Homo sapiens: one gene and its partners. The protein of the gene in region 4 purifies or fractionates together with the protein of the main gene of each other region. This does not show direct contact. Each region holds a gene or a part of one and is shown on either strand. Other genes may lie near its edges. The genes, in order: TUBB3, DENND11, TRIM11, EFNB3, RAD51C, PLCD3 and PKN3.

Region 1 (3,256 bases), on a different chromosome or scaffold from region 4:
GACTTCAGAGTACAGGCTCTTAGGATGTGAGCAGGAGGATGGCAGGCGGGCACAGAATTCAGAAAGAATGAGGGAGAGGCTCTGGCCCTCTGTGACCCGAATCACCGAGCCCCTCTCTCCCCTCAGCTCACAAGTACGTGCCTCGAGCCATTCTGGTGGACCTGGAACCCGGAACCATGGACAGTGTCCGCTCAGGGGCCTTTGGACATCTCTTCAGGCCTGACAATTTCATCTTTGGTAAGTTCCCCCTGCTCCAAGCTCTGATGGCAGACCCCATCACAGGCAAGCCCAGGTCGGTGGACGGGGACGGCTGTGAGAAACAAGGAATGGTCAGCTCCTCACATGATCCTGAATGGTGGGAACTCATCTCTCCATTTTACAGCTGGGCATTGGAGGCCCAGAGAAAGGGTTCTGTGGGGAGAACAGAAACCACTCATGCATTTCAAGTGGAATGAAGTGTAAAGCAGACAGAAGCTTACAGAATTGCTAGAGAGCTGGTGAGACAGAACGGGGCCTCCAGAGGACTCCGGGGTCCAGGAGCACGAGGCCTTGCTGCGGTCAAGAGATCAGGACGTTCCCATGCCTGTGTCCTGGGGTTGGGCCGTGGATGCCACGTTCCCATGTCTGTGTCCTGGGGCGGGGCCGTGGATGCCACGTTCCCACGTCTGTGTCCTGGGGCGGGGCCGTGGATGCCACGTTCCCACGTCTGTGTCCTGGGGCGGGGCCGTGGATGCCACGTTCCCACGCCTGTGTCCTGGGGCGGGGCCGTGGATGCCACGTTCCCACGCCTGTGTCCTGGGGCGGGGCCGTGGATGCCACGTTCCCATGCCTGTGTCCTGGGGCGGGGCCGTGGATGCCACGTTCCCATGCCTGTGTCCTGGGGCGGGGCCGTGGATGCCACGTTCCCATGTCTGTGTCCTGGGGCGGGGCCGTGGACGCGCCACAGAAACAGGAGGGCCTCGCTTCACTTCTGCCTTCCCGACCGCAGCACATCCAGCTGGTAGATGCCAACTCGCATCCAGCCCCCAGCTGCCAGGGATTCTGGGGTGGCTGTTTGGGCTCCTGGCACTGCCAGTCGGAAGGAAGGTATGCTGGAGCAGGAGGGCTGATCCATTCACCCAGGATCCCCTCAGGAGGCAGAGCCTCGCTCTGCTGTGACCCCAAGTTCTCAAGACTCTGTCCAGAGCCCTCGTCCTGAGCACTCAGCAGCATCGGCTCAGGGAAGCCACGGCGGGTATGAGAAGGGGTGCTCAGTGGGGCCTACTTTACAGAAGACAGAACAGGCATGGGGCTGCCACGGCTGCCCTTGGGATGTTCAGGCAGGGGCTGGAGGTCTGGACTGCAGAGTCCCTGGCCCCTGTCTCTTACCCCTCTTCTCCCTGTACAGGTCAGAGTGGGGCCGGCAACAACTGGGCCAAGGGTCACTACACGGAGGGGGCGGAGCTGGTGGATTCGGTCCTGGATGTGGTGCGGAAGGAGTGTGAAAACTGCGACTGCCTGCAGGGCTTCCAGCTGACCCACTCGCTGGGGGGCGGCACGGGCTCCGGCATGGGCACGTTGCTCATCAGCAAGGTGCGTGAGGAGTATCCCGACCGCATCATGAACACCTTCAGCGTCGTGCCCTCACCCAAGGTGTCAGACACGGTGGTGGAGCCCTACAACGCCACGCTGTCCATCCACCAGCTGGTGGAGAACACGGATGAGACCTACTGCATCGACAACGAGGCGCTCTACGACATCTGCTTCCGCACCCTCAAGCTGGCCACGCCCACCTACGGGGACCTCAACCACCTGGTATCGGCCACCATGAGCGGAGTCACCACCTCCTTGCGCTTCCCGGGCCAGCTCAACGCTGACCTGCGCAAGCTGGCCGTCAACATGGTGCCCTTCCCGCGCCTGCACTTCTTCATGCCCGGCTTCGCCCCCCTCACAGCCCGGGGCAGCCAGCAGTACCGGGCCCTGACCGTGCCCGAGCTCACCCAGCAGATGTTCGATGCCAAGAACATGATGGCCGCCTGCGACCCGCGCCACGGCCGCTACCTGACGGTGGCCACCGTGTTCCGGGGCCGCATGTCCATGAAGGAGGTGGACGAGCAGATGCTGGCCATCCAGAGCAAGAACAGCAGCTACTTCGTGGAGTGGATCCCCAACAACGTGAAGGTGGCCGTGTGTGACATCCCGCCCCGCGGCCTCAAGATGTCCTCCACCTTCATCGGGAACAGCACGGCCATCCAGGAGCTGTTCAAGCGCATCTCCGAGCAGTTCACGGCCATGTTCCGGCGCAAGGCCTTCCTGCACTGGTACACGGGCGAGGGCATGGACGAGATGGAGTTCACCGAGGCCGAGAGCAACATGAACGACCTGGTGTCCGAGTACCAGCAGTACCAGGACGCCACGGCCGAGGAAGAGGGCGAGATGTACGAAGACGACGAGGAGGAGTCGGAGGCCCAGGGCCCCAAGTGAAGCTGCTCGCAGCTGGAGTGAGAGGCAGGTGGCGGCCGGGGCCGAAGCCAGCAGTGTCTAAACCCCCGGAGCCATCTTGCTGCCGACACCCTGCTTTCCCCTCGCCCTAGGGCTCCCTTGCCGCCCTCCTGCAGTATTTATGGCCTCGTCCTCCCCACCTAGGCCACGTGTGAGCTGCTCCTGTCTCTGTCTTATTGCAGCTCCAGGCCTGACGTTTTACGGTTTTGTTTTTTACTGGTTTGTGTTTATATTTTCGGGGATACTTAATAAATCTATTGCTGTCAGATACCCTTGCTTGGTGCCAGAGATGTCCTTTTATTCTGGAAAGTTGTGTCCAGTAGGTGGAGGGGCTGACAGGGAGGCCCGGGTGGACAGGCAAGAAGAGCTCATCCTCTCCCAGGCTGGCGGCTGAGAGAGGCCTGCGCTGGGGGCCGGAATGTGTCTCAAGGCACAGCCCGTGGGGAGACCCCGGAAACGGGAAGCCCGGGAGAAGGAACGGGAAGTACCTCATTCCAGACCTCAAGATGCAGCCCTCCCGACTTGGAAATAACCCCACACTCGTTCCCTGGCCTCCCACAGAGCGGCTTGCACCCCAGACTTTTCTCCCACCTGTCTGTAGGCTGAAAGTTGGGGCAGGTGGTCCCTCCTGCGGTGGAAACTGCCATCAGACCTGAAGCCTCGGGTCACAACCAGGGAGGTAGGGAAGGGGGCCCCGAGTGCTCCCTGAAAAAGACGGTGTGTTTAGTGTCTCGGGGCTGGGCCCTGGGAGGGGCTGCTGAGGTCAGGGAGATGC
Region 2 (3,500 bases), on a different chromosome or scaffold from region 4:
GCCAGGGAGCTGGGGCCTGGAAGATTCAACAAAAGAGGTCATCTCATGGCTAGTCCATCAAAGAGAGGAGGTGCCAGTGACAAGTGCCTTTTTCTCCCCTAACTTGCTCTCTTTCCATCTCTGTGTCCTTTCTCATCTTGGACCATGACTTGGACCTATTACAGGTACTTACAGGCACTTCCTAGCCTCTACTGCAAAGACAACTTCTGAGGAGGGATTCACATGACCACGGGAGGCACAAATGTGGCAATATGCATTGTGTACATTCAGCTGGTCATTGAACAAATATTGGTGGAGCACAACTTGGCAGCACGGTGCCTGCCAGGTGCTGAGCTCATGCAAAGGCAAATATGTCTCTGTTTAAAGGAACTTGGACTAACCGACTACGAGGCTGGCAGCTCAGTTACCCAGGCAAAGCCAGAAGGTCAGTGTCGCGCCTGGCTGAGGATGTACAGATGGTCTGAACCCTGCCACTTCACAGCTCCAAAGGTCAGCCTGACAGCTCTGTGCACCAGGGCCTCCCAGAGCTGGGGTTTTATAAGCCCATGGGCTAGGCCAGAGGTAGGCTGTCCTATCTAGGTTGACCACTGCCTCTGTCTTCCAAAACTAGTTCTGTTTAAATGAGAAATGACCAAACCCCCAGCTGTCTTAAAATTCATCACTATTTCCTAGGGAGATTGGACATTAACTGCAGTAACTGCTGTCTGCTAGAAAGTTCACCTCAAAATATTTAAAATAGAGAAAGCAATGATCTTGAACCAAAACAATCTCTTTTTAATAGGAAATATGTGAATTTCTTCTTCCTCCTCTGTTAGATGGTTCCCAAGCAAGCACTTCCTCCTGAGCTCTTCATTTCCTATCCAGAGACTGCCTCAGCTGGAGATCCTCTTCCAGCTCCTCTGACCTCAGGAGTGGAACTCCCACCCCAGCACGTGCCTGAGGTTTTACTCTTTCCACGGTTCTCTTCCCATCTGTGTATACATATGCCCTGATTGTAATCAGGAAGTCAAAACAAATCCTGTTTCAGGAATAAAGGCATGAATCAAAGAGTATTCTAGGTCCCAACAATACATTCCCTTCACATAACCACCTAAAGGGGCCATCAGATCCCACAGGTGGAAACCTCCAAAGAGTATTTGGTTCAGACCCTAACATCAGAAAAGTAAATAACCCAGGTGAGTTGACTTTGGGTCTTACATGGTTTGAAACAGTCTTAAAACCACCTAGTCTGAGAGCACATCCAAAGCAAAGAGAAAAGCATCAGGATAAAGAATCCTGAGTCAGGAAGAAGCTAATCCTGCTGATTTAAAGTCAGCTATATGCCAATCCATGGCTGAATTCCAATGCATTCACTTTACAAAGAAAGACCTTCCATTTCACAGATCCCATATCATTCTCCACTGGGTGGTAGTGTGGTGTGGATAAGGGGTGCAGGTAGACTTGGGCTCTGGCCCTAACTTTAGACAACTTAATGGCTCTGTGCACCTGTTTTTCTCATGATGATGGTGTAGTCTGTTGGGAGGATCAGAGGCAGGTCACTGAAACATGTGGCACAGTCCTTGGCACACAGCAGGCACTCAGGAGGTGGTGGGTATTACAATTACCATTTTTATTTTCCCCTCCTCAATTTTCAAGAGAAGAAACTGACTTCACAGCAGATGGCTACAAACTGATTTCTCCCTGAAAACCACAAGCAGGTGAATCACCAACAGCCTGGGAAAGATTCTACCCGGGTGGGATTAAGCAAATGAACCACAATTGTATTCCACTGGCATTAGGTGGAAATACAGGGGAAGGATGGCGACATGACAGAGTTTCTCTTCCTGCGAGACGTTCTGGCCGGATATCAGAACAGGCTTTTTCTTTGCCTGCATTTGAGCTGTCCATGCTTACGACTGCTCTTTGCATCTTAAAATTGTCCTCCAAATTTTCCATTCACATTCTACTTTGTCACTTTCCCACCCATTGCTAGAGCCATTTATTATTTGCCACGAGTCAGATGACCTGGGCAGCGCTCCAAGTGGTGCCTCAGACACCAGACCTAGCCCTATTCTCACTGGGCCTCCATCATCTCCATTGTTTAAAAAAAAAATGCTTATGTTTCATAGACTATACAGGGAATCTACAGAGATTAAAATTAGTGTGTGTGATTTTAAATGTACTCATGTGACATAAACATAGAAGCGCTCGGATACATTAAATTAAATAGGTGTTTAGATGTAATCTGGGCACTGGCTAGAGGCTGAGGAACAGGTAGAAATTCATTCCCAAGAAGAAAGGGAGAAACATCTTGAAAACCTCAGCAGGTGATCTGCCTCTCACCTTACCCCTCCTCTTGCAAGCTGCCCCAGTACAAACACAGGGAGCACAGGAATTTCTCCCAGACACCCACAATAAAACTCTAAACGCAGCAGTGTAAAGTGAATCTCTTATAAAGAAACAGTCTAATGAGGCAGATGCAAAGATGTCCAGACATTGTATGTTCAAAGCTTCATCGGCCTCCATCCTGCCCACACACAAGTCCTCAGCCACACGGTGATACCGCTCTTGCCACCATCTGGGGGCAGGGGTGCTCCCCAAGTGTGACAATATCCTCTCCTTTAATTAAGCAGACTAAGAACATTTTACTAGAAGCCCAAATAATGAAGTAAAATTAAAATCAAGGCTCTAAATCATGGGGTTGAACAAAATGAAACAGCAATATTCTGGCTTCCAACATCTTCCACCCAGCTTGCAGAGTTAGCATCTGGGTCTGGTTTCAATAGCAGCTTTGTGGCCCAGATGATCAGCACCACCATCCTAGGGCCCCCTGCTCCAGATGAGGACTGAGTGTATGTGTAAGCCTCACTTTGAACCTGAAGCCCCTAGTTCTTAAGTCACCTGTAGACTCAGCAACCATAATTTTCAATCCATGAGTCTGATGGAAATAAGCTTTAAGACTCTTTCTCTGATTCTTCCCACAGATGGCCAGCCTAGCTTTCCAAAACTTGTATCTAAAAGTGCAAAAGGATTACTCTTATTTCCACACCTTAGAGAATCACTGCATATATTCCTGCTCAAACACACACACACACACCCTTTCTAACAAGGATCCACCCCTCCTTTTCCCTCTTACTCTACTACCTAATGAATGTACAGCTATGAATTCTCTTCTTCCTCTTTCACTCTCCCTCTCTCTCAGGCACACACACTGATTTGGACACATGCCAACAGTTACCCACATTACATGGGAAGATGCACATAATGCCATGGCCTGGGCAGTAAGTGATGGGGGTGGCGGAGGGTTGAGGTGGGTGTGGGGTGGGGGGAGGAAGGATCTCCTAGGAGTGGAAACTGAGGACACAGGTGGGAGAGACATGGGGAAGTGGCTAAGCAGGCAGGCCAGCGAGAGAAACTAAACAGCAGACAAATCACACCTATGTAAGAACTTCTAAAATATGCTCTAATTTTGGTAAAGAAGTCAATATTCACTTTATCGCTTTTGGCAACACAGGCGAAGG
Region 3 (3,500 bases), on a different chromosome or scaffold from region 4:
GAGAGAGCTGACTCCAGGCCCCCTGACCTGCCGCCAGGCCACAGGCCAGGGCGTCCACTGGTTCTGGTTTGGGGGTGCACCAAGGAAAGCCCAGGCCCAGGGGGCCGGCTCAGGGAGTGGAGCCCACACATGGGAAAAGACTCTCCTGGAAGCAGAGGAGGAGGAGACTGCCCCCCATAATGGAGATGCATGGGGTGTGCCAGCGGGGTGAAGACAGAGTGAAGGGCGAGGACTTCCTGCTGGGGACACCATGGCAGGAATCCTATGGGAGGCCCAAGGTGGTCCCAGCGAGCACATGCCCACTCTGCTGTGCCCACAGGGAGCAGCAGTGTCAGTCAGGACGAGATGGAGTGACCTTATGTAATCACTTAAGAAACATCAACTGTTTACATCTACAGAGGAAAATTGATTTTCCCTTTCTCGGCACGTGGGTTTTGGGGGTGGGACATCTGTCCTGCTGCTGACTCAGCATTTCACAGGCAACAGCCAGGCACATCCAGCCATGCCATTCACCTCTCAGCCCAGACAACCTCTCTGCCCCTGCTTCTTGCACTTTCTGGTTCTCCCTCCCCCAGTGTGGCCAGGCCATGCCCGTGTGGCCACCATGGCTGCTCCCCGCCCAGCTCACCTGCAGCAGCCCCAGAGCAGGCAGCTGGCAGCGGCCCTCGAGCTCGGCGATGAGCTCAGCTAGGTGGGCGCTCTGCTGGCCTAGGTGGGCTGCGCCCTCCCGCAGCCGGGGCAGCACCTCCAGCTCCTCCTCCTCCAGCCTCTGCAGCAGCTGCTGCTCCTCCTCTGCCAGCAAACGGCGAAGACGCTCGAACTCACCCAGCACGTTCTGCCGCTGGCTCTCCACCATCTTCTGTGGAGCCCAGGGAGAAGGACAGCTGAGGCCAGACCCCAGGCCCAGCCAGACCCCAAGTTTGGTCAGACCCCAAGCCCACCCAGAGGCCTGGCTGCACCCAACCCCACCCCCGGGGCCTGCTAAAGCCAAAGCACAGCACCAGGTGTGGCAGGACCCCAAACCCACCACCTGGTGCTGGCCAGACCCCAAACCCACCTGTGGCACCTCCCAAACCCCAAATCCACCACTCAGGGAGAGCCAAATCCCATTCTACCACACAGGACTGGCTAGACCCCAAATCTAAACCCAGGGCCGACTAGATCCCAAATCCACTATCTAGTCCCTCCCCAACTTCCAAATCCACCCATTGGCTTGGTAGAACCCTGCATCTACCACCTGGGGCCAGCTGGACTACAAATCTACCACCCAGGGTCCCTCCTGACCTCCAAATTCTCCCCTGGGGCTTCCCAGATCCCAAATCCACCACCCAGAGCCTCCCAGACCCCAAATCTACCCCAGAACTGGACAGATCCCAAATCTACTCCTCAGGATGGCTGAATCCCACATCTATGACCTAGTCCCTCAAAACCTCCAAATTTACCTCCAGGGCCCAGACCCTAAATACACCTGAGAGTTGCCACCCAAGCATGCTGGGACCCCAGGATGGGGCCCTTGCAGTATGGGAGCCCACGCCCACGACCTGGCAGGACAGGTGCACGTGGGAAAGGACCAGCCCTTCAGTGGGCTCGGTGGGGCCAGGCTGAAGCAGTGACTGGTCCTGGGGCGCCAAGGGCAAGTGTGCCTGGCCAGCATCGCCCCCTGGGGTCTCCTATACAGGACCTTCACCCCCTACCCTGCCACCCAGGACCCTGGGAGCCCCAGCACCTGCCTGCCACAAGACGCAGGTCTCATCCGCCTGGGCTTGGAACAGCAACGCATCCTGCATCTGCTTCCGGAGATGCTCCAGTGACTTCTCCAGCTTCGCCTGCGGGAGAGGCCAGGCAGGACCATGAGACATGAGTCCTGTCACAGAAGCCTGCCCTTTTGCACCTGACACCCTGTCCCCTCCTCAAAGACAATGGGGACAAACTGAAATCTGCCTGGTGAATCAGGGAACTCAATGCCCTCCAATAAGCGTGAGCCCTCATGGTAGGTGGGCAGCCTCTTGCCAGAGGCTGACAGCCCCAGCCACATTCTTTCCTTTTTCTCATATGGGGCATTTCTAGTCCTCGACCTTGCTACCCTAGCCCAGGCCTCACCCCCCTTTGCAAAGCTACCTCAAGGGTTCTGGCTGCCCACCCCATCTGTCCCCAAGCTGGCTCTGAAGGTGCTGAGCTCTCCTGTTCCCAAGCCAGTGTCTACTCCTCCTCCTCTTCCTTCTCACCTGCTGGCTCACATAAGGGCCTTGGACCAAGCCTATGCTGGGGTCCAAAAATTCTGCCCTATGCCCCCACAAATTCATAGGTTGAAATCCCAACACCCAGTGTGATGATGTTAGGAGGCGGGGGCTTTGGGAGGTGACTAGGTCAGGAGGGCAGTGCCGCCACAATGGGATTAGTGTTATAAAGGAACCCTCGCCCCTTTCACCATATGACAACACAGTGAGAGGGTGTTGTCTGTGAACCAGGAAGCACCCTCACCAGACACCAAACCTGCCAGGGCTTGATCTTAGACTTCCAGCCTCCAGAGCTGTGAGTCTCCAGCTTGTATACATCTGCCATGTGCAAACCATGGTGTTTTGGTAGGACAGTCAGCACGGACAGACATGCCTGGCTACCCACCCTATCTTTTCTCCAAGCCACTCGGGACCTTGTGCATTTTCAGCTTCATCAGCTATCACTGTAATAAGCTCCAGGATGGGTACACCTCCATTCTGCTTTCTTGGTCCTTAATTCTCATTCCCACGGTTCCTCATGCTGTGCATACCAGGAAGCAGTGAAAATCCTGTACACAAGCTCACTGTACTGTGTGTGCTTGGGGTGCCCTGAACCCACTTCTCGAAGGGTCTGCTCACTTCCACCCCATCTGACACCCTTATCAGCAACGGGCCCTGTGCTGGCCACACCTCTTTGCTTCTCAGCCACCCCAAGTCTTGGCTCTCATCTCTCGCTATCCACGCTCTGGAAGGATGGAGGTGCTGGGAGGGTCCAGAAGTCTGCCCCGGTAGCAGAGCCAGGACTTCAGCCCAGCTGCCTGGCTCCAGGTGCTCACTTTAGTTCACCACTTGGCCTCACGATTCGGGAAGACCGCTGGAGCACCAAGGACATGTCCAACTGCTTTACTGTCTCTGCCTAGGCTCAGCTCTCACGTGAGCTACAAGAACCCCAAATGGCGGTCCCTGTCCCCAGGCCTCTCTCCTCACTGCTGCCGACCTGTTCCAGAAAACTCAGGCCTGGCCCCTGTGACCCCAACCCCACCTCAAACACTTGGCCCAGTGCCTCTCACTTCTCCCTCAATGCCTCAGTCCCTACGGGACATTTTCAGTTTTCTTTTTTTGAGACGGAGTCTCGCTTTGTCCCCCAAGCTGGAGTGCAGTGGCACGATCTCGGCTCACTGCAACCTCTGCCTCCTGTGTTCAAGTGATTCTTCTGCCTCAGCCCCCTGAGTAGCTGGGATTACAGGTGCCCATCACCACACCCAGCTAATTTTTGTATTTTTT
Region 4 (3,671 bases):
GGTTATGGGTATACAGGGAGCCAGGGCACACGCAGCTTGATGCCTGGGTCCCTCCCTGAGTCCTTCCTACTTCCTTCTGATCAGCCACATCCCTTCTCCCCATGAGTCCCCAACAGCAAAACTTCTCAAGTGCCTTGGGTAGGGATGGTAGGGAATAGACTTTAACATGTGAACATGTTTTTACCACTTTGATCCTAATTGCGTCTTACCCTGTCTCTGGTGCTTTGGCTTAGCAAGACACTCAGACTGTCCCCATGGATGAATTGGCGACCCCACTCCTGCCTGCATTACTCTCTCCCTCCCCTAGAGGTGACACCTTCCTCTGCCTTCTCGCCCAGCCCATTTTCGCCTCCCCAAGCACTGCCAACCTCACCACTCCAAACTAGCCCTATCCCTACCCACCCCCCTTGGTTGGTTTCATGCAATCCAACCCTCAGCTGAAAGCCATTCTAACCAAGCCTTTGTCCCAATTCAAGTCCAGTCATTCTCCAGCCTTCTTGTCAACTTTTGAAGTTTTTTATTTTTATTTTTTTTGGTTTTTGTTGTTCAAATTTCCCTTTTACAGTAAAACTACTGAGGTGACGGCATACCCCGCCACCATGGCAATATCAACTTCCTGTTCCCCAGAAGGAGCGATTAGAAAAATCAGGAAGGAGCTGGGAACTACAGCACCAGAGAGGTGAACTTGACCTCTGGTGGACAAAGCAACCATCTTGGCTGGTGATTGAGGTGGCCAACCTGGTGCCCAACAACAGCTTTGATCTAATAAAACTGAGCTGGGAGGAAACTGAGGCAACACCCAATTGCACACTAGAGGGCAGGAAGAGGTATCAGCTGGTCACTATGGAAACAGTGGCCTTTGCTAAGTACCACTGTCAGCTAGACCAGCCAGTAGGCCACCATTTTGGTCACTAAGAAGGGAACTGTGTTGAGTCTGAAAGGAGTCAGAAATGTAGGATGGAATGAACAAGACAGCCATCTGGGTTACTCGGGAGAGCACATGGGTTCTTGGGGTAGTCCTGTTGATTAACAGAGATTATACTGGGATATGGAAAGGAAAGAACAAGACAAATTAGGCCTGCCACAGCACATGGCAGTCATCTTAGCTGTCCTAAAATCAGCACAGAGCACAAGGGAAGGGAGATCTTGGGAAGTGCCACTGAAGACTGGGAAAAGTCCTTCTCGGTCCACCTCTAACCTCTTACAGTCAGTAAGTTCCAGCTTCCTCCTGAAAGGAAGTTCTTCCCGCCCTTCTTCTCCACAGAATAAGAACCATCCACCTCCCACCTCCTGATCCCCCAGACTAAGCCACTTGGAGTTCCAGCCAGACCACTTCCTGTTTCAGAAGTGCTACTTCCTGTCCTGGATGAAGGCACTTCCAGTTCCTGCTGCACTGCTTCTGCTACTTCCCAGGCCATTTCTGTCCGGGCCTGGTCACCTCTTGTCTGGAGCAAGTCACTTCCGGTCCCAAGTGGCCCATTCAGCATCAGACCAAGTCCATACATGTCCCGACCGGTTCATATCTTGCTATTGGCCACTGGACAAAACGGGACACTTCTTCTCATGGTAGCTGTCATGACCCAACCACCCCAAATGGCTGGAGTAAGTATGTAGAGGCCTGGGCCAGGCCAGAGAATGGAGCCCTGCTGCCCATGGCCTGAGCTGGGGTGGAGTGTCAGAGCCTTCCCCATAAGGCCCCCATTTTTGGCAGACTGAGGGGAGTGGTTGGTATGAGAGGTCAGAAGGGGGGCTGAAAGCTAAGGGGAGAAATGCTTTGATGCCCCCACCCAGGAGATGGGAGAGGCACAGGATAAGAAGCCAAGAGGGTGAAAGGAGATGTGGGGAGGAGGATGCTAGGGAAGAAGAACAGACCTAGAGACGGAAGAGAGGGAAAGAATAAGAGATAGAGAAGAGAAAACCAGTGAGAGGCAGAAAGAAGGCGGTGCCAACCAAAAGGTGGGCTGTTCCCGCCCCTAGCTCTGGGTGGGTGAGGGGGACAAGGATGCCTGGGTCATGGTCAGAGAGGAGGCTGAGCCTGTGCCCCTCCCCAAGGAAAAAGGATCCAGGGACACTGAGACAGAGGGGGGCACCCATGGCCAAACGGGAGGGCAGGAAGTGGGGCAGTGGGAATCCTAAGGAATCCTAAAAGTGGAGACGAGGACAGCAGCCGGGAGGAGTGAAGGGGCTGGGGGGGCACAGGGGGCCGAGATGTTAGAGGTGTCCCTCAAACCAGGAATTAAACTGGAGGAGCACCCCAAGAAGGGCTGGATTCAGGATAGCCACGTGAGAGGAGCCCTCATACCTTGTAGTAGATGTTTGGAGGGCTCTGGGGGGGCCCATCCTGCACGATATACACAGGATGCCCATAGTCACCACTCACCTTCTCATAGTGGGGGCAGAAGGGGGGATCTGCAGCCCCGCCACCCCGCAGAGCTATCCCTAGCTCCCCAGGCTCAGCCTCCCGAGGTCCCATCCCACCTCCACCCCCCAGGCCCAGAGACCCTCCCCTCCCGAAGGAGCCAGGACCAGGGTGGCGACTCTCCGAAGGCTTGGCCCGCCGTCTCCGCCAACACATGGCACCCCCAGCCCCTGCCACGCCCAGCAAGAGCAGCGCCAGCCCCCCTGCTGCCCCAGCCACTGCAGGCATGCTGGGAGGGGGCAGGGGGCCTTCAGCACCCCGGGAGGTTGCATTGCTGGTGGGGTCACCTGGCAGGGAAGGGGTGAAGGAGGAAAGAGGGGGAGGGACTGAAGGAGCCACCTGGGCACCTGGACACCCAACCCTGGGGGTCCCCATGGGCTTCCCTTGTAGCGCCCAGGCCCCTTGGGGACCCCATCTCTCCTCCCCCTCCGAACTCTGCTCAGAATCCAGGTGTCCAGCCCTTCAGCTTCCTGCCACGGAGTCCTCCCCACTTCTCTGACAGCACTGATTGAAGCACTGACTTGGCTAATTAGTTCTAATTGAGTCTTTTCCTCATTTGGTTTCCATTCCCCTCCCACCCTCCCATCCTCTCTTCTCCTCTTTCCTGTATCACCGCCCCCAAAACTGAAGAGGGAGGGAGGGTGACGGCAGGGCAGCTGGGGTCTGAGAGCAGAGGAAGCTGGGGAAGGCAGGGGCCTAGCCCCTGGTTCCTACCTGGCAGGTTCTCCTTCCCAGGCTCCAGGCTGTGGGCTGCCCCTCGGTCTCTTTCCATGGGCATTTCAGACACAGGTTTTCGGGGGACAGCCCCTCCTCGGGGACCTGGAGATGAGGAAGACCCAGAGAGGGGCTGAGACAACTGCCCCAACCATGATCGTACTGCCCCAACGTCCCTTCGTGCCCAGGAGGTGTCCCCCAGCCCCACTCACTTTGTCCCACTCGGAGAAGCACCTTCATGCCTCTGGTTAGGCACACACCTCCCTGCAGGCTCTCCAGGCCCTCCCGGGTCCCATCCGATGTGGCTGGGAGAGAAAAGCCAGAGGAAGAGGTTGGCACTCCAGAATCTAGCCCTGATTCTGGCCCCACACCCTGGTGTGAACACTGCCTGAGGGCACTGGGATCTCCCTCTTGGCTGCAGGGGTCCCCCTCCCTCTCTGCTCAGTATCAGGAGCCCCCCACTCAATCGTGCCCTCTGCCCAGCAGTACCAATGATGTAGTAATCGTGGTGCGAGCGGAACTCGTGGCCCCAGAGATT
Region 5 (3,500 bases), about 51 Mb from region 4:
AGGCAAATTTCATTGGACCATAAGGCTCAAGAATAATCCTTTGCTGGCCAGGCACGGTGGCTCATGCCTGTAATCCCAGCACTTTGGGAGGCTGAGGCAGGCAGATCACGAAGTCAGGAGTTTGAGACCACCCTGGCCAATATGGTGAAACCCTGTCTCTACTAAAAATACAAAAATTAGCCGGGCATGGTGGTGCGTGCCTGTAGTCCCAGCTACTAGGGAGGCTGAGGCAGAAGAATCACTTCAACGCAGGAGGCAGAGGAGATTGCAGTGACATGAGATCATGCCACTGCACTCCAGCCTGAGTGACAGAGTGAGACTCCATCTCAAAAAAATAATAATAATTAAAAAAAGAATGATCCTTTGCTTTGATGCTCTGCCTTCCAGGCCCACTGCAGTAGCAGAATCACCCTACTGCTCTGTGGGGTGGCCCTGCCCCTTCCTCTCTCTGCAAGGGCCCCACCCTCTGAAACCAAGGACGACATAGCATTGCCCCCTGGGCTTATGGTAAGAGTGACAGCTCTGAGGATCTGTGATCCCCTTTGGCACCATTCTTTCCTTTTCTTGAGGAATAGGGCACATTCACAGTCAAGTAGCTCATGGTTTTCTCTTGTGGAATCAAGGAAGTCCAACAGCCTTCGTTCATTCTTTCCCACTTACTCTGTCCTCTTTACTTCAAACTAGCAGTGTTTCTGCTGTTATAATCCCTTATCTATCACTGGCTTCTGCTGAGATGGCTGATTAACATCATGGATAATCTATTTATAGAGTCATTGTTCAACCGTACCTTTGGTCTTCTCTCTAGAGCAAGCTTTCTTATTTTTAGCAATATGGATAGGCTGAGAATTTTCTACATCTCTAAGTTCTGGTTCCTTCTTGCTGAACAATTCCTTCTTCAATTCATCTGTCTCCTCTTTCATTTTTACTATAAGTGGTCTAGGAGAAACCAAGCCACTTCCTCTACACTTTGCTTAGAAATCTCCTGAGATAAATAGCCAATTTCATTTCTCACAAGTTTTACCTTCCATAAAATACTAGAACACAGCCAAGTTCTTTGCCACTTTATACTAAGCACCAGCTTTCCTTCAGTTTCCAGTAACTTGTTCCTCATTTCTGTATAAATCCTCACCAGAATAGCCGGGCATGGTGGCTCACACCTGTAATCCCAGCACTTTGGGAGGCTGAGGTGGGCGGATTGCCTGAGGTCAGGAGTTCAAGACCAGTCTGGCCAACATGGTGAAACCCCGTCTCTACTAAAAATACAAAAAAATTAGCTGGGTGTGGTGGCGTGTGCCTGTTAATCCCAGCTACTAGGGAGTCTGAGGCGGGAGAATTGCTTGAACCAGGGAGGTGGAGGTTGCAGTGAGCCAAGAACGCACCACTGCACTCCAGCCTGGGCAACAGAGCGAGACTCCATCTGAAAAAAAAAAAAAGCCTCACCAGAATTGCCCTTAATGTCCATATTTTCAGTATGTGCCTCAAAACTGTTCCAGCCTTTGCTTATTACCCAATTTGAAAATCACTTCCACATTTTAGGTATTTGTTATAGTAGTACCTTGCTTCTCTCACTACCTAACCCACCATACCTCATTTCTTGATACTAAAATTTGTTGTGGTCACCTCAGGCTGCCATAACAAAAATACTATAGTCTGAGTGGCTTGAACAACAGAAATTTTATTTTCTTACAGTTCTGGAGACTAGAAGCTCAAGATAAGGTTCTGGCTGATTGGTCTCTGGTGAGAGCTCTCTCCCTGGCATGTAGATGGCCACCTTCTTGCTGTGTCCTCATGGGGAGGAAGGAGGAAGAGTGAGCTCTTTGGTGTCTTTTCTTCAAGGACACTAATCCTCTCAAATCAGGATGTCATTCTCATGACCTAATTTTACGTTAATTACTACCTTAGAGGCCCTCTCTCCAAATACAGTCACACTGGGAGATAGGGCTTCAATTTACGAATATTGGGGGGACACAGCAGTGGTCATGTGTGGAGTCATGAAAAATCGAATCAACCTGTGCACATATTCCCAGCTGACGTTGAACAAGGTCATGTTCTGCCTTTTTATTTCAGCTCTCTACTGTAAACAAGTGTCCTTTTCACAGTCTTTATAATGCCACTTTTTTTTGCATTTTTGTGCTTTTTATTAGTGTTCACCTGTTCTTCATCACTTCAACCAGTTTCATTTTCTTATAATTATCGGAAATTACCTTATTTGTGTGTTTGTTTGCATATTAATGGTCCCTTACTCCACTAAAACATAACCTCCAAGAGAGCAGGGACCTTCTCTCTTATTTACTATATTCTTCTCTCTTATTTACTATATCATCCCCAATGCCTGGAACAGTAAATAGCATATAGGAAAGGAGGTGTCAATTAATACTTGCTAAATGAAGAAACAAATACTCTAAATAAAACAACTTACTTAGGCATTGCTTCATAAAAGCCTCTTGTTTAATCCAACCCTTACTAGATAGAAAAAAACATAGCATTGGAGTCTTTTGTTTGTTTACATTTGGGTTAGTTTCCAGATTCTTTTTGATTTGGGGATCTTAAGGTTTATATATTGGTTTATTTTTCTAACTTCACTGTTTATTTTTTGCTTTGGGGGGGGCTTTCTTTTGAAAGGGTTTTGCTCTGTCCCCCAGGCTGGAGTGCATGGCAGGGTTTCACCACGTTGGCCAGGCTGGTCTCAAACTCCTGACCTCGTGATCCACCTGCTTCGGCCTCCCAAAGTGCTGGGATTACAGATGTGAGCCACCGCGCCCAGCCTGAAGGTTTTTTTGTTTTTTGTTTTTTGTTTTAGGAAACATAAAAAGAACCCGGAAGGTAAAATTGGTATATTTAATTGACAAATGTGTTGTTTTACCAAGACTTTTTCTTTAAGCCTTTTCAGAATGTTTTACAAAGACTTTAAATGTGCTTTTTATCAGTAAAGACTGTGTACAGTGGCAAGTTAAAGAAAATTATAATTATTCCTTTTTCTTTTTGAATTACTTTTTTTTTTTTTTTTTTTTGAGACAAAGTCTCACTCTGTCGCCCAGGCTGGAGTACAGTGGCGCAACCTCTGCCACCAGGGTTCAAGAGATTCTCCTGCCTCAGCCTCCTGAGTACCTGGGATTACAGGTGCCTGCCACTGTGCCTGGCTAATTTTTGTAGTTTTAGCAGAGATGGGGTTTCACCATCTTGGCCAGGCTGGTCTTGAACTCCTGACCTCGTGATCCACCTGCCTCGGCCTCCCAAAGTGCTGGGATTACAGGTGTGAGCCACCGCGCCCAGCCTTTGAATTACTTTTTTAAAGTTGAGAAATTATCAAAGCAGAGTCCGTTTTAACTTTTAGTGATTATTGCAGAAAGCACTGGCTGAACAGCTTTGTAACTTTCCAAAAGAAAGCCATACTTTAGACAGTTGGAAATAAAGCCCTGGGTTTTAAGGTTTTTTCCTGTAATGGACTATGGTTTTTCCAATGCTATGTTTTTTTCTATCTAGTAAGGGTTGGATTAAAG
Region 6 (3,500 bases), about 37 Mb from region 4:
TAGAGGGGGCTGAGATCGAGGAGTTCCTGCGGCGGCTGCTGAAGCGGCCGGAGCTGGAGGAGATCTTCCATCAGTACTCGGGCGAGGACCGCGTGCTGAGTGCCCCTGAGCTGCTGGAGTTCCTGGAGGACCAGGGCGAGGAGGGCGCCACACTGGCCCGCGCCCAGCAGCTCATTCAGACCTATGAGCTCAACGAGACAGGTGGGGGGGGTGGCACGGCCAGGTCGTGGCACCTGAAAGGGCTGTGTTCCCAGCTAAGCGGGTTCTGCTGCGGGCTGGCGCGGGCATCATCTCGGGCAGGTTACCTCACCTCCTCCAGACTCAGCTTCCACATGTGTAAAATGGCACAACAGTTTGTCTTCCTCCCAGGGTCTGGTCGAAGGTTAAGTGGCATGACTTACATGGAGTCTAGTCAGTAGATTGTCTAGTCATTATTCCTAAGCTGAGTGGGCCTTGGGGGCATTGGAAGCTGGACATGGGGGATCCCTATGTGGCCTGATGCCCTCTCCTGCCACCCCTGCAGCCAAGCAGCATGAGCTGATGACACTGGATGGCTTCATGATGTACCTGTTGTCGCCGGAGGGGGCTGCCTTGGACAACACCCACACGTGTGTGTTCCAGGACATGAACCAGCCCCTTGCCCACTACTTCATCTCTTCCTCCCACAACACCTATCTGACTGACTCCCAGATCGGGGGGCCCAGCAGCACCGAGGCCTATGTTAGGTACTGTAGCAGGGGGTGAATGTTTCCGGGAGCCCCACCTGGGGAGAGACATGGGCTGGCTTCCTGGGGCCTTCCTGGCCCAGCCTGCCTGCTGCCCTGCTCTGTGGCACTCTGGCAACACCTTGCCCGTCCACCCATCTGTCCACACACAGGGCCTTTGCCCAGGGATGCCGCTGCGTGGAGCTGGACTGCTGGGAGGGGCCAGGAGGGGAGCCCGTCATCTATCATGGCCATACCCTCACCTCCAAGATTCTCTTCCGGGACGTGGTCCAAGCCGTGCGCGACCATGCCTTCACGGTGAGCCCCTGGGATGCCCAGCCCCAGCCCCACAGCCTTCCCAATGACCTCCGTCCGCACTCACATGCCAGCTGCCCTCCGTCCTTCCAGAGGAAACCCTTGCCCAGAGAATCATTCATTCACCAAGTGCTGCTGGGATAAGTGGCCAATGGGGTGGCATAAAGCTGAATGAGATGCCACCCTCATATTTGGGAAATATGTTCCCTCTCTCATATTTGGGAAATGTCCTAAAAATCACAGAGTTTCCAGAAGAAAACCTTTGGGGGAGGGAAGGACATTTTAATCATGACTTCCAAAGAATAAATAAGCTGTAAGAGAAGCTCACCAGTGGCATCTGCATAAACACTGCAACTTTGGTCACAGTGTGCAAATCTTCCCATCAGCAAATGATGGGAGGAGAGTTTTCACATCACTGACATAGTCAATGTCATTCACATGTAAAAAGCATTTATGGGACCAGGTGCGGTGGCTCACACCCGTATTCCCAGCACTCTGGGAGGCTGACGCGAGGATCACTTGAGGCCAGGAATTCCAGACCAGCCTGAGCAAATAGCTACATCCTGTCTCAACAAAAATAAAAATTAGCTGAGTGTGGGGGCATGTGCCTGTAGGCTGAGTTACTCAGGAGGCTGAGGTGGGGGGATCACTTGAGCCCAGGACTGGAGAACACAGGGAGACTGACTGTGCCACTGCACTTCAGCCTGGGTGATGGAGAGAGACCAAAGCATAGACAACAACAACAAAAAATCGGCCAGGCGTGGTGGCTCTCACCTGTAATCCCAGCACTTTGGGAGGCTGAGGTGGGCAGATCACCTGAGGTCAGGAGTTTGAGACCAGCCTGGCCAACATGGTGAAACCTCATCTCTATTAAAAATACAAAAATTAGCCGGGTGTGGTGGCGGGCGCCTGTAATCCCAGCTACTTAGGAGGCTGAGGCAGGGAGAATCGCTTGAACCCGGGAGATGGAATTGTAGTGAGCTGAGATTGCACCACTATACTCCAGCATGGGCGACAGAGCAACACTCCATCTCAAAGAAAAAAAAAATAATTCCTGCAGCCGCCCTCAGCCTCCTGGACAGTCTGCTGCTTCCCTGGGTTCTCCAGAGCCCTGCCTTTGCCTGCCTGTCCTGAAGGGTCTGGGAGCCAGATGTTGGGAGATACTGGCAGAGGGAGGGGAGTGGCTCTGAGCTGCTGCCCTTCCCCCCACAGCTGTCCCCTTACCCTGTCATCCTATCCCTGGAGAACCACTGCGGGCTGGAGCAGCAGGCTGCCATGGCCCGCCACCTCTGCACCATCCTGGGGGACATGCTGGTGACACAGGCGCTGGACTCCCCAAATCCCGAGGAGCTGCCATCCCCAGAGGTGACGCCCCCCAGCCCCTAGCCTGGGTGGAGGGAGGTCTGGTGGGAGTCCGCCTCCCCGCACTGCTCGTGCCACCTCTGTGGCTCAGGACCCCTCACCTCTTGCTGCCTTAACTTTTCTCTGTTCCTCTGTTCATCTGAGGTCTGCCATCCCCTGGTCTTGTCCTTCTGCTGCCCTCTGGCTCTCCATTCTTGACTAGACCCCCCCACACACACACCCTCTTCTGTAACCTGGCTTTGCCCTGCTGGCCCTGTGTCCCTGCCCGTAGAGTCCTGCAGGCTCTGCCATTCCCACCTGCAAGGCCCCGCTTGACACTTTCTCCACCTGGAAGTCCCTTCTCGGCCATCCACACTTGCCAAGCGTCACCTGCTTAGAATTCAGCTCAACTTCAGCCGCCTCTTCCTGTGGCCTTATCCACTTCCCCAACTCTCGGGCCTGAGGCGGCCTCCTGCTCTCCCCCAGACACCAGAGCGCGTCCTCGGCTCTCTCCAGACATTTATCCTGTCGGGCTCCTTGAGAAAACTCTCCTCCTACTTCCAATCCCCAACATGCAGGCAGGGTTGACTCACCCTCGTGTGTGTGTGAGATGTGATTTTTGTTATTACTGTGAAAATCACACCCGTATGGTAAAAGAAAACTGAGCTGTACTAAGGGACGCGATGAGCAGTGCTCCCCTCCCTCCACTGACCTGTCCTCTTTCACAAGAAGTAACCATCTCTAACTTTCTTGCATGTCCTTCAAGAATTTCCCCACACACATTACCTGTGTACATATGTGTACTGTCTTCTCTTTTAAATGGTACCAAAAAAGGACATGTGATTCCAGGTTGTAGCCTCACTTCTTCCACGTAAGATCTTCTTTGAAGAGGGTCCCTTTCCTTTCAGTCCTGAGCTGTCGCGTGCATTGTAGTGGCTGCTGTGTATATTCTGATGTTGAGGGACCTTATTAAGCATCCCTTCCTGATGGCCTCCCGGGCCATTCTCCACTCTTTCCTATTAGAAACATCGCTCATCTCTGTGTCTCCTTTCCTGCCTCCCACCCCTAGCCAGCCCCTCACAAGGCGGTGGTTGAATAACTGACTGACTGGCTGCCACAGGGGCGAGAAGGCCTAACCCT
Region 7 (3,500 bases), on a different chromosome or scaffold from region 4:
AGAAGGCAGAACTCGGCTGGGTGCGGTGGCTCACACCTGTAATCCCAGCACTTTGGGAGGCCGAGGTGGGCAGATCATGAGGTCAGGAGTTCGAGACCAGCCTGGCCAACATGGTGAAACCCCGTCTCTACTAAAAATACAAAAAATAAGCTGGGTGTGGTGGCATGTGCCTGTAATCGCAGGTACTCGGGAGGCTGAGGCAGGAGAATCTCTTGAACCTTGGAGGCAGAGGTTGCAGTGAGCCGAGATTGCGCCATTGCACTCCAGCCTGGGCAACAGGGCAAGACTCCATCTCAAAAAAAAAAGAAGCCGGGCGCAGTGGCTCACGCCTGTAATCCCAGCACTTTGGGCGGCCAAGGTGGGTGGATCATGAGGTCAGGAGATCGAGACCATCCTCGCTAACACAGTGAAACCCCGTCTCTACTAAAAAAATACAAAAATTAGCCAGGTGTGGTGGTGCTCGCTTGTAGTCCCAGCTACTTGGGCTGCTGAGGCAAGAGAATCGCTTGAACCCAGTAGGTGGAGGCTGCAGTGAGCCGAGACTGCACCACTGCATTGCATCCTGGGCGGCACAGCAAGACTCCGTCTCAAAAAAAAAAACAAACCAAAAAAAAAACAGAAGGCAGAACTCAGTCTCCTCTCCCATCCCTGACCACAGGCTCTCCCTTGGGCCAGGTGCAGGCTGGGGCTACGAGCCTCTAGGACTAGGAAGAAAGGGCCAGTGTGCCCAGCTGTCCCCTGGAATGAGGTCTGGGGTGGTGGAACCAGGGCATCCGCAGGTGAGGAGATTTCCTGGGACATGCCATGTGCCCATCATCCTATTGGCCAGGGTGGGTAAACAAGGCTGGAGATATGGATCCCAATGGGCGGCCCCCACCTTCCTTGCAGAGTCCAAAGTCTGCGATCTTCAGGAATCCCTGGGCATCCAGCAGAAGGTTATCCAACTTCAGGTCCCTGAGGGCAAGGGTGCAGATCAAAGGGACTGAGTGGGGCTTAGACCCAGGGAACAGTAACGGCCCCTGGAGCAGCCCAGGCAGGCGGAGGCAGCATCTGTCCTTACCCACTCCACCCCCACCCCCACCCCTACCCCCGTGCATCCCTGGGACAAAAGTCACCTGTAAATGATCTTCTTCTCGTGTAAGAACTGCAGCCCCAGGACAACACAAGCCACGTAGAAGCTGCAGGGGTGGTTATGGGAGAACTCAGGCCCAAGACACACACCAGGGAGGCAGGGCAGGGAGGCACCAGGATGGCCATAGCGGGGGGATCCCGGATGTCCCGGCCAGAGTCAGAGATGAGTGAGACTGGGACAAGCATCATGCTGAGGGTGGGGGTGCTCCAATAGTCCCAAGGTCGCCCCAAGGTTGCGTGCATTTCCAGCTCACCCTTCATGGGCCCTTAAATGGTGCCAGGGACCAAGTGTTGGTCCCTGCAGTGGATATTCATCATGCCTATTTTTTTTTTTTTTGAGACGGAGTCTCACTCTGTCACCCAGGCTGCAGTGCAGCGGTGCGATCTCGGCTCACTGCAACCTCCACCTCCTGGGTTCAAGCAATTCTCCTGCCTCAGCCTCCCAAGTAGCTGAGACTACAGGCACGCGCCACCACGCCCAGCTAATTTTTTTTTTTTTTTTTTTTTTTTAGTTTTTATAGAGATAGGGTTTCACCATGTTGGCCAGGATGGTCTTGATCTCTTGACCTCATGATCCACACGCCTCAGCCTCCCAAAGTGTGGGGATTACAGGCATGAACCAACGTGCCCGGCCTTTTTTTTTTTTTTTTTAGATGGAGTCTCACTCTGTCGCCAGACCGAAGTGGCGGGATCTCGGCTCACTCCAACCTCCGCCTCCTGGGTTCAAGCGATTCTCCTGCCTTAGCCTCTCAAGTAGCTAGGATTACAGGCGTGTGCCACCATGCCTAGCTAATTTTTGTATTTTTAGTAGAGACAAGATTTTACCATGTTGGCCAGGTCACGAACTCCTGACCTCAGGTGATCCACCCGCCTCAGCCTCCAAAGTGCTGGGATTACAGGTGCCCGGCCAATCATGCCTATTTTTCAAATAAAGATCTGAGACTCACCAGGTGTGGTGGCTCACGCCTGTAATCTCAGCACTTTGGAAGGCCGAGGTGGGCGGATCACTTGAGGTCAGGAGTTAGAGACCAACCTGACCAACATGGAGAAACCTCGTCTCTACTAAAAATACAAAATTAGACAGGAGTGGTGGTGCATGCCTGTAATCCCAGCTACTCAGGAGGCTGAGGCAGGAGAATGGCTTGAACCAGGGAGGCGGAGGTTGTGGTGAGCCGAGATCATGCCATTGCACTCCAGCCTGGGCAATAAGAGCCAGACTCTGTCTCACAAAAAAAAAAAAAAAAAAAAAAAAAAGAAACCTAATGCACAGCTTCATAAGCTGATACCCAGGATCACAAATGCTGTCAGTTGGTGCCAGGATGTAAACCAAGGCCTCTGACTCCTGCTCCCCTGCTGTTGGGCACTTGGAGAAAGCAGTATGTAGAGAGTGGGTGTAGGGAACCAGGCAAAGTTTGCTGGAAGAGGCAGGCAGGAGGGATGGAACCCACCGGGCCTGGGGCTCGGGGAAGACATCCTCGTGGATCTGCATCATGAGGTCACCACCAGGCACAAACTCAGTCACAAAGCAGGCATGGCTGGAGGTCTGGAAGCAGGCAAGGAGGGAGAGCAGGAAAGGGTGCCCTGTGCAGCCCACAGCCTCCAGGATCCGCTTCTCGCAGTACAGGCTACAGGAGAGAGCAAGAGTATTAGAGGGAAGGAAAACTTTCCCTGGGCTGTGCCCTGTGCCCTGCACAACACCCCTGGCTCACTGGGCCCTCAGCCAAAGTGCCAGGCAAGTAGACTGATGGTTTCTTTTCATTTTTTTTTTTTTTTTGAGACACAGTCTTGCTCTGTCGCCTGGGCTGGAGTGCTGTGGTGTGATCTCAGCTCATTGCAACCTCTGCCTCCCGGGTTCAAGAGATTTTTGTGCCTCAGCCTCCCGAGTAGCTGGGATTATAGGAGTGCGCCACCACGCCCAGCTAATTTTTGTATTTTTAGTAGACGCAGGGTTTCGCTGTGTTGCCCAGGCTGGTCTCGAACTCTTGGCCTCAAGTTATCCACCTGCTTCGGCCTTCCAGAATGCTGGGATTACAAGTGTGAGCCAGTGCGCCCAGCCTTTTTTTTTTTTTTTTTTGAGACAGGGTCTCACTTTCTTGCCCAGGCTGGAGTGATGTGGTGCGATCTCGGCTCACTGCAGCCTCCGCCACTGAGGTTCAAGTGATCCTCCCACCACAGCTTCACGAGTAGCTGGGTGTGCACCACCACGCCCAGCTAATTTTTGTATTTTTTGTAGAGGCGGGTTTCACCATGTTGTCCAGGCTGGCCTCGAACTCCTGGGCTCAAGCAATCCTCCCACCTTGGCCTCCTGAAGTGCTGGGATTACAGGCATGAGCCACTGTGCCCAGCCTCCCCCTCCTTTTTTTTTTTTT

Evidence for each region.
Region 1: the proteins of EFNB3 (region 4) and TUBB3 purify together in Homo sapiens (affinity purification with mass spectrometry; 2 studies listed by BioGRID and IntAct, with this or other methods). This does not show direct contact.
Region 2: the proteins of EFNB3 (region 4) and DENND11 purify together in Homo sapiens (co-immunoprecipitation; 3 studies listed by BioGRID and IntAct, with this or other methods). This does not show direct contact.
Region 3: the proteins of EFNB3 (region 4) and TRIM11 purify together in Homo sapiens (affinity purification with mass spectrometry; 2 studies listed by BioGRID and IntAct, with this or other methods). This does not show direct contact.
Region 5: the proteins of EFNB3 (region 4) and RAD51C purify together in Homo sapiens (affinity purification with mass spectrometry; 2 studies listed by BioGRID and IntAct, with this or other methods). This does not show direct contact.
Region 6: the proteins of EFNB3 (region 4) and PLCD3 purify together in Homo sapiens (affinity purification with mass spectrometry; 2 studies listed by BioGRID and IntAct, with this or other methods). This does not show direct contact.
Region 7: the proteins of EFNB3 (region 4) and PKN3 purify together in Homo sapiens (affinity purification with mass spectrometry; 2 studies listed by BioGRID and IntAct, with this or other methods). This does not show direct contact.

The regions. Positions count from the first base shown.
Region 1 is NC_000016.10:89,933,342-89,936,597, forward strand, and holds the end of TUBB3 (tubulin beta-3 chain), read left to right. Parts: intron 1-126; coding exon 127-237; intron 238-1,387; coding exon 1,388-2,463; 3' UTR 2,464-2,756; downstream 2,757-3,256. UniProt on the Homo sapiens protein: Tubulin is the major constituent of microtubules, protein filaments consisting of alpha- and beta-tubulin heterodimers. Microtubules grow by the addition of GTP-tubulin dimers to the microtubule end, where a stabilizing cap forms.
Region 2 is NC_000007.14:141,695,667-141,699,166, forward strand, and holds part of DENND11 (DENN domain-containing protein 11), read right to left. Parts: intron 1-3,500.
Region 3 is NC_000001.11:228,400,336-228,403,835, forward strand, and holds part of TRIM11 (E3 ubiquitin-protein ligase TRIM11), read right to left. Parts: intron 1,827-3,500; coding exon 1,731-1,826; intron 860-1,730; coding exon 629-859; intron 1-628.
Region 4 is NC_000017.11:7,708,202-7,711,872, reverse strand, and holds the end of EFNB3 (ephrin-B3 precursor), read right to left. Parts: coding exon 3,623-3,671; intron 3,439-3,622; coding exon 3,346-3,438; intron 3,239-3,345; coding exon 3,134-3,238; intron 2,707-3,133; coding exon 2,297-2,706; 3' UTR 501-2,296; downstream 1-500. UniProt on the Homo sapiens protein: Cell surface transmembrane ligand for Eph receptors, a family of receptor tyrosine kinases which are crucial for migration, repulsion and adhesion during neuronal, vascular and epithelial development.
Region 5 is NC_000017.11:58,706,102-58,709,601, forward strand, and holds part of RAD51C (DNA repair protein RAD51 homolog 3), read left to right. Parts: intron 1-3,500. UniProt on the Homo sapiens protein: Essential for the homologous recombination (HR) pathway of DNA repair. Involved in the homologous recombination repair (HRR) pathway of double-stranded DNA breaks arising during DNA replication or induced by DNA-damaging agents.
Region 6 is NC_000017.11:45,115,516-45,119,015, reverse strand, and holds part of PLCD3 (1-phosphatidylinositol 4,5-bisphosphate phosphodiesterase delta-3), read left to right. Parts: coding exon 1-201; intron 202-523; coding exon 524-725; intron 726-877; coding exon 878-1,022; intron 1,023-2,231; coding exon 2,232-2,384; intron 2,385-3,429; coding exon of another isoform or gene 3,430-3,459; exon of another isoform or gene 3,460-3,500. UniProt on the Homo sapiens protein: Hydrolyzes the phosphatidylinositol 4,5-bisphosphate (PIP2) to generate 2 second messenger molecules diacylglycerol (DAG) and inositol 1,4,5-trisphosphate (IP3).
Region 7 is NC_000009.12:128,716,003-128,719,502, reverse strand, and holds part of PKN3 (serine/threonine-protein kinase N3), read right to left. Parts: intron 2,757-3,500; coding exon 2,580-2,756; intron 1,179-2,579; coding exon 1,116-1,178; intron 955-1,115; coding exon 878-954; intron 1-877.